3 linked regions of the Homo sapiens genome follow. The protein of the gene in region 1 purifies or fractionates together with the protein of each later gene. This does not show direct contact. Each region holds a gene or a part of one and is shown on either strand. Other genes may lie near its edges.

Region 1 (3,652 bases):
GCAGTGGCACGATCTCTGCTCACTGCAAACCGCGCCTCCCAGGTTCACGCCATTCTCCTGCCTCAGCCTCCCGAGTAGCTGGGACTACAGCCGCCTGCCACCATGCCCAGCTAATTTTTTGTATTTTTAGTAGAGACAGGGTTTCACCGTGTTAGCCAGGATGGTCTCAATCTCCTGACCTTGTGATCACCCGCCTCGGCCTCCCAAAGTGCTGGGATTACAGGCATGAGCCACTGAGCCCGGCCGAGATGATCTCTTAAAGACAAAAATTCAGTCTAGTACAGTGCCTGTGGTTTAGTACAAGAGATGGCAGTATTTGGTAATCTTTCACAAACATTTGTTGCAGTTTACAATTTTACTTGGGAAATCCCATTAGTATCGATCACTATCATTTGCTAAAGACTGGAGATTGATTTACTCTTAAGGGGTGCTATGCCTTACTCACCTAAGGGGAACCATACACAGATGGACTCCTGTGCCTGACTAGATTTTATTTCTGACTAGGATTGAGTATCTAAACTATCTATTCTAAGTAGTTATTCTAAATAGTTTGGAATAGTTGAGATACTCAATCCTAGTCAGAAAAAAATAACTAGAGTAACTAGTTATTCTGAATAACTCATATTTTGTTTCTTCCACTTCTCTCTTCATCATGTTCATGTTGTCTTCTGTCTGCGTAAATGTATGGAGTATATTTATAATGGTTATTTAAACTTTTTTTTCTTGCTAGTTTTAACATTGATGTCATTTCTGGGTCTGTTTCTATTGATTGATTTGTCTTCTAGTTATGGGTTATATTTTCTATATTTTCTTTACTTCCTGGGTAAATTTTGGTCGGATGTTAGATTAAGAATTTTATGTTGTTGGACCCGGGATTTCGTTGTATTTTTAAAAATATTTTGGACTTTGTTGTGGGAGGCAGTTAAGTTACTTGGAGTCAGTTTGACTGTTTCAAGGTGTGCTTTTTTTTTTTGCTTTGTTAGGATAGGTTCAGATCAACCTTTCTGCTAGGACTTATTTGAGTTACTGCTAAGGCAGTTTTTTTCTGTGGACGTTGCTGCTCAATGTCTTATGTCTTTCCACTTTGGCTGGAGGCAACATGAACTGGTTATTGCTCTGTTATTCCTTTTAGGTGGTTCTTTCCACGGCATTGGGTAGTTTCTTCATGCACTTGTAGATTACTACTCAGCCAAAGTTGTGGGGTTATTTTTTTTTTGATACAGTATCTTGATCTGTCACCCAGGCTGGAGTGCAGTGGCACAATCACGGCTCACTGCAGCCCTGACCTCCCAGGCTCAAGCAGTCCTCCCACCTCAGCCTCCCAAGTAGCTGGGACTACAGGCATGCACTACCATGCTTGTCTTTTTTTGTTGTTTTTTTTTTGTAGGGATGGGGCTTTGCCATGTTGCCCAGGCTGGTCTCGAGCTCCGTGGCTCAAGCAATTCTCCCACCTCAGCCTCCCAATGTGCTGGGATTACAGGTTTGAGCCACTGTACCTAGCCTCAGGAAAGTCTTAAGGGGACCCCATGTAGATGACCTGAGCTCTCTTTCTGAACAGCTGCCTCTTTGCTGTTTTGCTTTCAAATTCTAGCTGCCTTGGCATCCCTGATCTCTGAACTCAGTCCCCTCAAATCAGCAAAACCACTTGGTACTGTTTGGATTCCCATGAACTATACTGCAGCCCTTTCTAGTCAGTGAGTTGGGAAAACTGTAGAACTTTGTTTCTCTGGAAAGAAAAGTTCCTTTTGTATTGATATATTTGCTTTATAACTGAAGAATACTTGGAAAATATTACACAGGAATGTTAGTTTTGTCAGCCATTCTTGTAAGTAGATTGGCTGTTATTTTCATGCAGTACACACAGCCTTCTACCTTGATCTTTCCTCAGTGAGGAGTAAAGAGATTTTGGAGAGTTCTCCTGGTGATAATAAAACTATTTCTGATAACCCGTGTGTTTCTTTGTTATGGAAGAAAAATGCTCACTTGATTGCTTTTTTTTCTTTTTTCTTTTTTAATTATTATTATTATTTTTTTTTGAGACAGAGTCTTGCTCTGTCGCCCAGGCTGGAGTGCAGTGGCGCGATCTCGGCTCACTGCAAGCTCCGCCTCCTGGGTTCACGCCATTCTCCTGCCTCAGCCTCCCGAGTAGCTGGGACGACAGGCGCAGGCCACCACGCCCAGCTAATTTTCTGTATTTTTTTTTAGTAGAGATGGGGTTTCACCGTGTTAGCCAGGATGGTCTTGATCTCCTGATCTCGTGATCCACCCGCCTCGGCCTCCCAAAGTGCTGGGATCACAGGTGTGAGCCACCGTGCCCAGCCTCTTTTTAAAAATTATTTTCTTTCCCACTCATTCTTGCTGTCATCTTTTTTTTTTTTTTTTAAGAAACAAGTTCTGGCTCTGTCACCTAGGCTGGAGTGCAATGGCACATCTCAAACTCCTGAGCTCAAGTGATCCTCCTGTCTCAGCCTCCTGAGTATCTAGGACTATAGGCATGTGCCACCATGCCTGGCTAATTTTTAAAAATTATTTTTTGTACAGATGGGGTCTCACTGTGTTGCCCAGACTGGTCTCAAACTCCTAGCCTCAAGTGATGCTCCCACCTCAGCTTCCCAAAGTGCTGAGATTACAGACGTGAGACACTGCCCAACCCCTCTCTTTGTTGATAAATATGAATCCTAATCTTTTTTCCAATTGTTAATTGTTCTGCTGTCACTTGAGATAGCTTCAAAAATGAAAGGCTCTTGAGGCCTAAATAGATTAGATGGAAAAGTTCACCTCTAGATAGCTGCTACTGAGATTGTCCTTAGTACCTATCCCACTGGACTCTGACTTAGTTATAGCTATTCTCTCCTTACCTTTGGATATTCACCCAAAACTGGATCTTCTGGGAGGCCAGGAGAGTCTGCTTGGTCCTGATTTTGTGTGGTTAGTGTCTGGGTTATAGAATAACCCTTCTAAGGTTTCCTGGTCCTGTTTGTAACTACCTTAGCTTACTTTTTCCCCAGTATCCCTTGAAGATATTGTCTATGTTTTGCTTTCTTTTGTTTTTATCAACAGGAGAGGAAGGCAAGCCTGAGATTAATCAGCAGTTAAGCCTAGAGTCTATGGAACTTGACGAGCTTGCCTTAGAAAAGTACCCCATTGCTGCACCCCTTGTCCCTTACCCAGAAAAATCCTCTGAGGATGGAGTTGGAAACCCTGAAGCGAAAATATTAAGTGGAACTCCCACTTACAAGAGAAGGGTCATCAGCCTTTTAGTTACCATTGAAAACCACACCCCATTAGTAGAACTCTCTGAATATTTAGGAACCAACACACTTTCTGAAATTCTTGATTCTCCCTGGGAAGGAGCCAAAAATGTGTACAAATGTCCTGAGTGTGACCAAAACTTCAGCGATCATTCATACCTAGTTTTGCATCAGAAAATTCATTCAGGAGAGAAAAAACATAAATGTGGTGACTGTGGAAAGATCTTCAATCATAGAGCCAACCTGAGGACACACAGGAGAATCCATACTGGTGAGAAACCTTATAAGTGTGCCAAGTGCAGTGCCAGCTTTCGCCAGCACTCTCATCTATCCCGACACATGAATAGCCACGTAAAGGAGAAGCCCTATACATGTAGCATATGTGGTAGAGGTTTTATGTG
Region 2 (3,652 bases), on another chromosome or scaffold:
AGCTTCAGCCACCCGAGTAGCTGGGATTACAGGTGTGCACCACCATGCCCAGCTAATTTTTGATTCTTTAGTAGAGATGGGGTTTCACCACGTTGCCCAGGCTGGTCTCAAACTTTGGAGCTCAAAGTGATCCGCCTGCCTCGGCTTCCCAAAGTGTAGGGATTACAGGCATGAGCTGCTGTGCCCAGCCTGTTTCTGCATTAATTTAAATCTTTTTTTTCCATAGCTTTTCTTAAATCCCATGTCCTCTGTCAAGCCTTTTTTGAGTATCCGTCCTCGGGTCACTACCTGCTACCTGTAGACTGTTCATTTGGGTGGCTTTGCTGGGGTTGCCTGTGAAGCCATACAGAGGCATGAGCCTCCTAGTGCCAGCCTAGCACATGCCATGATTTTGGTTAGCAACTTTAGCAACTTACCTATTGCTTAGCAGCTTACCTATTGCTGTTCACAAACCACCATGCCAAGCACAGGGCCCTACATGTAGTGGGAATTTGATTTTCCTTACGTCAGCACACATGATCATCGTGATTAGGATGGAGGGAAAAGTGAGTATTAGACATGACGGGTTTTGCTCAACTGGAGTTATTTAAGAGATTGTGATTCAGCTAACAGTAGGAGAACTAGACAGAAAGCTGGCTTTTAGGAAGACTGGTCAGCTTTCATTAGAGATTTTGGTGAGTTGGGCACAGGAGAAAGTTTTTTTTTGTTTTTGTTTTTGTTTTGAGACAGCCTCTTGCTCTGACACCCAGGCTGGAGTGCAGTGGCGCGATCTTGGCTTACTGCAAGCTCTGCCTCCCGGGTTCACGCCATTCTGCCTCAGCCTCCCAAGTAGCTGGGACTACAGGCGCCCGCCACCACGCCCTGCTAATTTTTTGTATTTTTAGTAGAGCTGGGGTTTCACCGTGTTAGCCAGGATGGTCTCGATCTCCTGACCTCGTGATCCGCCCGCCTTGGCCTCCCAAAGTGCTGGGATTACAGGCTTGAGCCACCGCACCTGGCCAGGAGCACGTTTTAGAAGGAGATGTGTCAGTTGCCTATTGAGATTTTTTTTTTTTTTTAGTCCAGTGGGAAATCCTGGTAAGTAGTTGGAAATGTAGGGAAAAAGTCTATGGATAATGTGTATTTTGTAATGTGAATATTTTCTTTCTTTTTTGAATAGTGTCCCGAGCAAGAGAAGCAGTCCTGGATGCCCACTTTCTTGTTTTGGCTTCAGATTTGGGCAAAGAGAAAGCAAAGCAGCTGCGCTCAGACCTGAGCTCCTTTGACATGTTAAGATATGTTGAAACTCTAGTAAGTTCAAAGCTACAGACTCTGAATAAAAAATGTTCTGTTATATATTATAATTATTTACTGTGCTCATATCCATATGCAGATGATTTCACTTCATTCTTCTTTTTTGGTCTCAGATTCCTCTGTAGAGATCTTACCAATTTAAACAGACGAAAGTAGAACCATGTGGTGGAATCTTGGGTGGGGGCTTGGAGTAAAAATCTCGTAGCATTCTGTCTTAAGATGCTGGGTGCTATGGTCATTTGCCAATGGCCATTTTTCCTCTGTTCACTGGTGTTCTAGATCATTCTCAGTGACCTCAGACCTTTGTCCTGGGCTGGACAAAAGCCCACTCTGCGATGGCAGAGCTCAGCTGGAATTGAGTTAGGCCTGGCGAGAGGGCATGTTTTGGTCTGTCTTTGAGAATATTTCAAAACCATGTGAATATGATTGGGTTTTGCTTTTTTTTTTTTTTTTTTTTTTCCTTTGAGACAGAGTCTCGCTCTGTCGCCCAGGCTGGAGTGCAGTGGCGTGATCTCGGCTCACTGCAAGCTCTGCCTCCTGGGTTCACGCCATTCTCCTGTCTCAGCCTCCCAAGTAGCTGGGACTACAGGCGCCTGCCACCACGCCCGGCTAATTTTTTGTATTTTTAGTAGAGACGGGGTTTCATCATGTTAGCCAGGATGGTCTGGATCTCCTGATCTCGTGATCTGCCCGCCTTGGCTTCCCAAAGTGCTGGGATTACAGCCGTGAGCCACCTAGCCCAGCCAGGTTTTGCTTTTTTGGTTTTATGTTTTATTCACCTTTCTTTGTCTCTTGACAAGTTTGAATAGTGGTTACCTGCAATTCTAAAACTGTTCCTTGATGAATTTACCAAAAAAGAAAAAGCACACAGAGACTGACCTTGTATCTCACTTTGTTGTCTTTTTAAAAAATTCTATTCTGGCTGGGGGCAGTGGCTCACGCCTGTAATCCCAGCACTTTGGGAGGCTGAGGCGGGTGGATCACCTGAGGTCAGAAGTTTCAGACCAGCCTGGCCACCATGGTGAAAGCCCGTCTCTACTAAAAATAGAAAAATTAGCTGGGTGTGGTGGCAGGCGCCTGTAATCCCAGCTACTCGGGAGGCTAAGGCAGGATAATCCCTTGAACCCAGGAGGCAGAAGTTGCAGTGAGCCGAGATCGCGCCACTGCACTCCAGCCTGGGCTACAGAGTGAGACTGCACCTCAAAATCAATCAATCAATCAGTCAATCTGTCAATCTGAGCCAACCTCTGTCCTAGCACAGATAGCTGCACCTCAGTATGAATATTGCATTTCTAACTGGATGTTTATGTTAAATGGTTATTAAAATAATTTAGTACTATGAGATCTGATCAGATAATTTTTTTGTAAAGGCATGAGGCACCAGATTATTTCCAGTTTGTTTTTCAAACCTTTTCCTTTTTTTTTTTTTTTTTTAACTTTTTTTTATTGTGAAACATAATGCACTTAGGAAAGTGCACTGTAATATAGAGGTCAATAAAGTAACCATGTATTGGGTATTTCTTTAAAAATTACTTTATCAGGTTAAGCTCTATTTTTTTATTTTTTGAGACAGAGTCTTGCTCTTGTTGCCCAGGCTGGAGTGTTGCCCATGCTGGAGTGTTGCCCAGGCTGGAGTGCAGTGGCACGATCTCAGCTCACCGCAACCTCCACCTCCTGGGTTCAAGCGATTCTCCTGCCTCAGCCTCCCAAGAAGCTGGCATTACAGGTGCCTGTCCCCACGCCTGGCTAATTTTTAGTAGAGGTGGGGTTTCGCCATGTTGGCCAGGCTGGCCTCGAACTCCTGACTTCGTGATCCACCCGCCTGGACTTCCCAAAGTGCTGGGATTACAGGCATGAGCCACCGTGCCCGGCCAAGCTCTGTACTTTAAATAACATATCAAAATAAATTCTGGAAGTCTTAAAGCATTAAATATAAAACCTTAAATTAATAGTTGTCCAGTCTCTGGGTGGAGAAGACTTTCGTATGTATAGCATCAAATATAGACACTATAAGGAAAGATTGGTGGATTTCTCTGTCAGTTAAACAGACCAAAACTGCCACGTCTGCCTACAAGGGTGCAGTGGTAGTTCGGGCGGCAAGGGAATGGAGAAGAGCTGGCCATAGCGCTCTGACCAGGCTCTTGTAGCCTTTCTTTTCTTTAAAGTCTGATTGCCTTTAATAGGGTTAAGCTCCCTGAGGGTTTTGTGATTATTGTTTATATATGATATTGCCATCGTAATTGGATAACTTCTAGGCATTTTACAGTATAATGTAATAAAAATGTACTTTCATAAAAGTAAATTCAATATAACACATTTTCTGTAAGACAGTTTGAGATGAGAGAATTATTTGACTTCC
Region 3 (3,652 bases), on another chromosome or scaffold:
ACAGTTTTCTCCAGTGGGTTGTTGGTATATTTGCTGTCTAAACTGAATGCATATTCTGTTTCACATTTGAAAGTGATCTTAACGGAGTCATCACAGCTAAGCACTATACGAGAGCAAGAAGATTTTTTCACACGGGCAGACGGTGGTCGATCCTTGGGCTTCACCACGGGGTCGTCAGGAGGCTTTTGCTGAAGCAAAAGGCCGGGCTGATGCCGAAATGGCATGACTTTCCCCACTGGGGTTGCTGCTTCAGGGCTTTTTGTCCCATTCCTGGGAAACAGAGGGCTTAGTATCTCTCTCTCCTGTAGATGTTTCTTTGAATGTTCTGTAAGGAGCAGGGCATATGAATGTTCCACAGAAACAGAAGAGCTTTGGCTTGCATCTGAAGATTCTAGCATTTCCTCAGTAAGTGCTGACTGGGCTTTAGCAGGGGCCTGACTACAAGGAACCAAGCTTTCTTCATCTTGGCTAACTGTTAAGTCTGATCCAGAATTACTCTTCCTATCAGAAGATGGGTTAGGTAGTAATTCACCTTTTTGAGTTTTAACTCCTCTATGATATTCATGGTCAGATGTACCTCGCAAAGAATTTTCTTTAGAGAGCAAAACATCATTTTGTGGCAATTCAGAGGAACAGTGAAGATTTCTAGCCTCAGATACTGGTGTGGAAGAAGTAGCAGAGCTTAATGCTAGATCGGCTAACATATTTAGGGCCTGGGAGTCATAGTTGACGATGGAGTTTTCAGGAAGATCATTGTGAGCCGCTGTGGTATTTTCTGGTTGAACACTATTTATGCTAATCCCATCTTCTTGACAACCTCTTGAAATTTCTGATTGAAGCTTTGAAGCAGTTTCTCCTTTGACTTCAGTATAAAAGAAAAAAAAAAGAGAGATGTTTGCTTGTCATAGAATTAACTCTCTGCCATATTACTATGATGGTTAATTCAACATGTCTGAGAAAAACTTATGTAACATATATTGCATATTAAAATTTTCTATTAGATTAAGGTCTCTTCCAACCCTCAGATAAAACTTATGTTATACATATTGCATATTAAAATTTTCTATTGGATTAAGGTCTCTTTCAACCCTCAGATTATAATGTGTTAAACCAGAGGGACAAGTCTTAAGGAATGTGTACATTAATTTAGAAAGAAATTATCCTTCAAAAACATATGAACTGATCTACACAGAAGACATACAGCTCAGCTCAAAAAATGTACAAACAAAAAAACCCAAAAAAGATGAGAGTCCTGCCCTTGGGAGCTTACAATCTAATAAGGACAGGAATGTAGAAGTTTCAAGTGTGTATGAGTTTGCTAACATACTTTCTCAGGAACCATTTCCCTGAACAAGCGATTTATTAGAGAAACTACCTAAGTTCAAATGATTTTAACTATATTGATCTTTAATTACATGATGTGATAGAAATAAAAAATTAGAAAAGTCCTAAGAGTATTCAGAATCATCAATTAATTCCATTACCTTTTAAAATTTTACTTTCATTACCAAAAACATTGACCTTTTACATTATCCAAGAAAGAGCAAATCTACTGACAATGTTCCCTTTTACAGATAATCAAATCTATCCATATGCCCTTAATCAGAACATTTACATTTGCCAGTGGTTTCCCTTGGTATTTTCAACGTATTCATTATTCCTTCCTAAATGCTGTTATTATGAAGGATAAACTTCACAACTCTGCTAGGCAATGATTCCCTGCTGCAGGTAGACAGATGACCAGAAAAGCCAACTATGTTCCTCTTTATCATAGTAGCAGGTCCAAAATGAATTAACAACCTGCCAGCCAAGGCCAATGAGTAACACATTTAAAGAGAAGACAGCTCCAGCCTATGATGTCATCAATTAGAACGACAAGGGCATGCACATACATGGGGAAAGGGTTAAACTGATCAACGACTGCCCAGTTTTTATTTAAAACAGCAAACTCAAAGGGGACAGGTGGATGAAAAGGACCCAAAGCAGATAATTGTCTTGTTAGTCCCACAGGTATACTGGAAACATAAAATTAATTTTGTGATCTGATGCTAATTTCATTCTTTGTTAATATTATGGCCTCCATCTACTTATCCCTTACACAAAATATTACTTACCAGTAAGGCCTAATATAAAAGATACTGTATTAAAATAAAGAAAAATGGTAGTTTAACATATTATAGTCTCACATAAATCACCCAGTTATTAACGTGTTACAGGTTCCCAATTAAAAAAACACCACCCATAATTTCTATTTAAGACATACATAAGACAATGCCAAAGGAACTACATTAAAAAAAAGTTCAGTGAATAAAAAGGACAGAAAATCATGTTTCATTAACAAAAGGACTGTCTGACTTCAAAATTATCATTTGATTCTAATTTAAATCAGTAATTTGCAAACTGAGGTCAATGTGGCTATGTTTCATCTGCCTTCTTAAACGTTGATATTTTAAGTATAAGAAGTAAAATGATTAACATAGGTGCTTAAGAAAAAAATTCAGAGATTTAAATGTAGTCATTCAAAAATGTTAACTTGGAATGTGGCTGCACAATACCTACAGACATTTGCAATACAAATCAGCCTGTATTTGAACACACATTTTGAAACTTTAAATTTTCTGGGCTCACTTTTCTGCCAGTATGCAATTATATACCTCCTCGCATTAATCAATTTGTCAATAAACATCTGAAGCCAATTCAGTACAAAGAATGCAAATGACACTGCTAGGAACACAAGATGTTACCTATTCTCATGTTTACAAATTGGAAAGATTGGACCAAGACATGTCAGATGAATTGAAAACAGTATGAATTAAATTATAGAATGTTCTCAAATATCCCAAAGAAGTGAGAGATTAGTTACAGTCACAACATGAGAAAACGCCTCCCTGTGGGGATAAATCTAGCTGCAGGCCCCTGAAGGGCAGAGGTTGCCTGGGGGAGGCACAGAGGGCCGCAGGGGAAGGAGCACGGTGGCAACAGCAGAGGCACAACGCAGAGAGGGGAGGTACAGCCACACCATAAACTCCCGAGAGGGACAAGCAGAAGAGCTCAAATCTGGTATGGAAGCCAAAACTGCAGCATATGGGTTTTTGAATGACATGATGAGCTTTTAAAAAAATCTTCAGTCATAAAACAATCTGAAAAAACTTAAAGAATCTCAGGGTATGCTTAAGTTGAAAAAAAAAACAAAAAAACTAAAAAAAACAAACCTGGCTGGGCGTGGTGGCTCACACCTGTAATCCCAGCACTTTGGGAGGCCGAGGCAGGCAGAGCATGAGGTCAAGAGGTCAAGAAGTTGAGACTATCCTGGCCAAAATGGTTAAACCCCATCTCTACTAAAAATACAAAAATTAGCCAGGCGTGGTGGCATGCACCTGTAGTCCTAGCTACTCGGGAGACTGAGGCAGGAAAACTGCTTGAACCTGGGAGGCAGAGGTTGCAGTGAGCCGAGATCGTGCTACTGCACTCCAGCCTGGTGACAGAGTGAGATTCTATCTCAAAACAAAACAAAACAAAACAACAATCCAATTTCTTTCTCTGAATTCTCACTCTCTGTGAGATAGTAACATCTAGTAATAGATGAGGGAGAAAGTAGAATCAGGAAAACCAGACAGAAAACTCATAGAAAGATAGGAGAGAATGAAGTCTC

What was found.
Region 2: the proteins of ZNF597 (region 1) and NSMCE4A purify together in Homo sapiens (affinity purification with mass spectrometry; 4 studies listed by BioGRID and IntAct, with this or other methods). This does not show direct contact.
Region 3: the proteins of ZNF597 (region 1) and TASOR2 purify together in Homo sapiens (affinity purification with mass spectrometry; 4 studies listed by BioGRID and IntAct, with this or other methods). This does not show direct contact.

The regions. Positions count from the first base shown.
Region 1 is NC_000016.10:3,436,947-3,440,598, reverse strand, and holds part of ZNF597 (zinc finger protein 597), read left to right. Parts: intron 1-3,060; coding exon 3,061-3,652. UniProt on the Homo sapiens protein: May be involved in transcriptional regulation.
Region 2 is NC_000010.11:121,968,577-121,972,228, reverse strand, and holds part of NSMCE4A (non-structural maintenance of chromosomes element 4 homolog A), read left to right. Parts: intron 1-1,159; coding exon 1,160-1,290; intron 1,291-3,652. UniProt on the Homo sapiens protein: Component of the SMC5-SMC6 complex, a complex involved in DNA double-strand breaks by homologous recombination. The complex may promote sister chromatid homologous recombination by recruiting the SMC1-SMC3 cohesin complex to double-strand breaks.
Region 3 is NC_000010.11:5,736,828-5,740,479, reverse strand, and holds part of TASOR2 (protein TASOR 2), read right to left. Parts: intron 863-3,652; coding exon 1-862.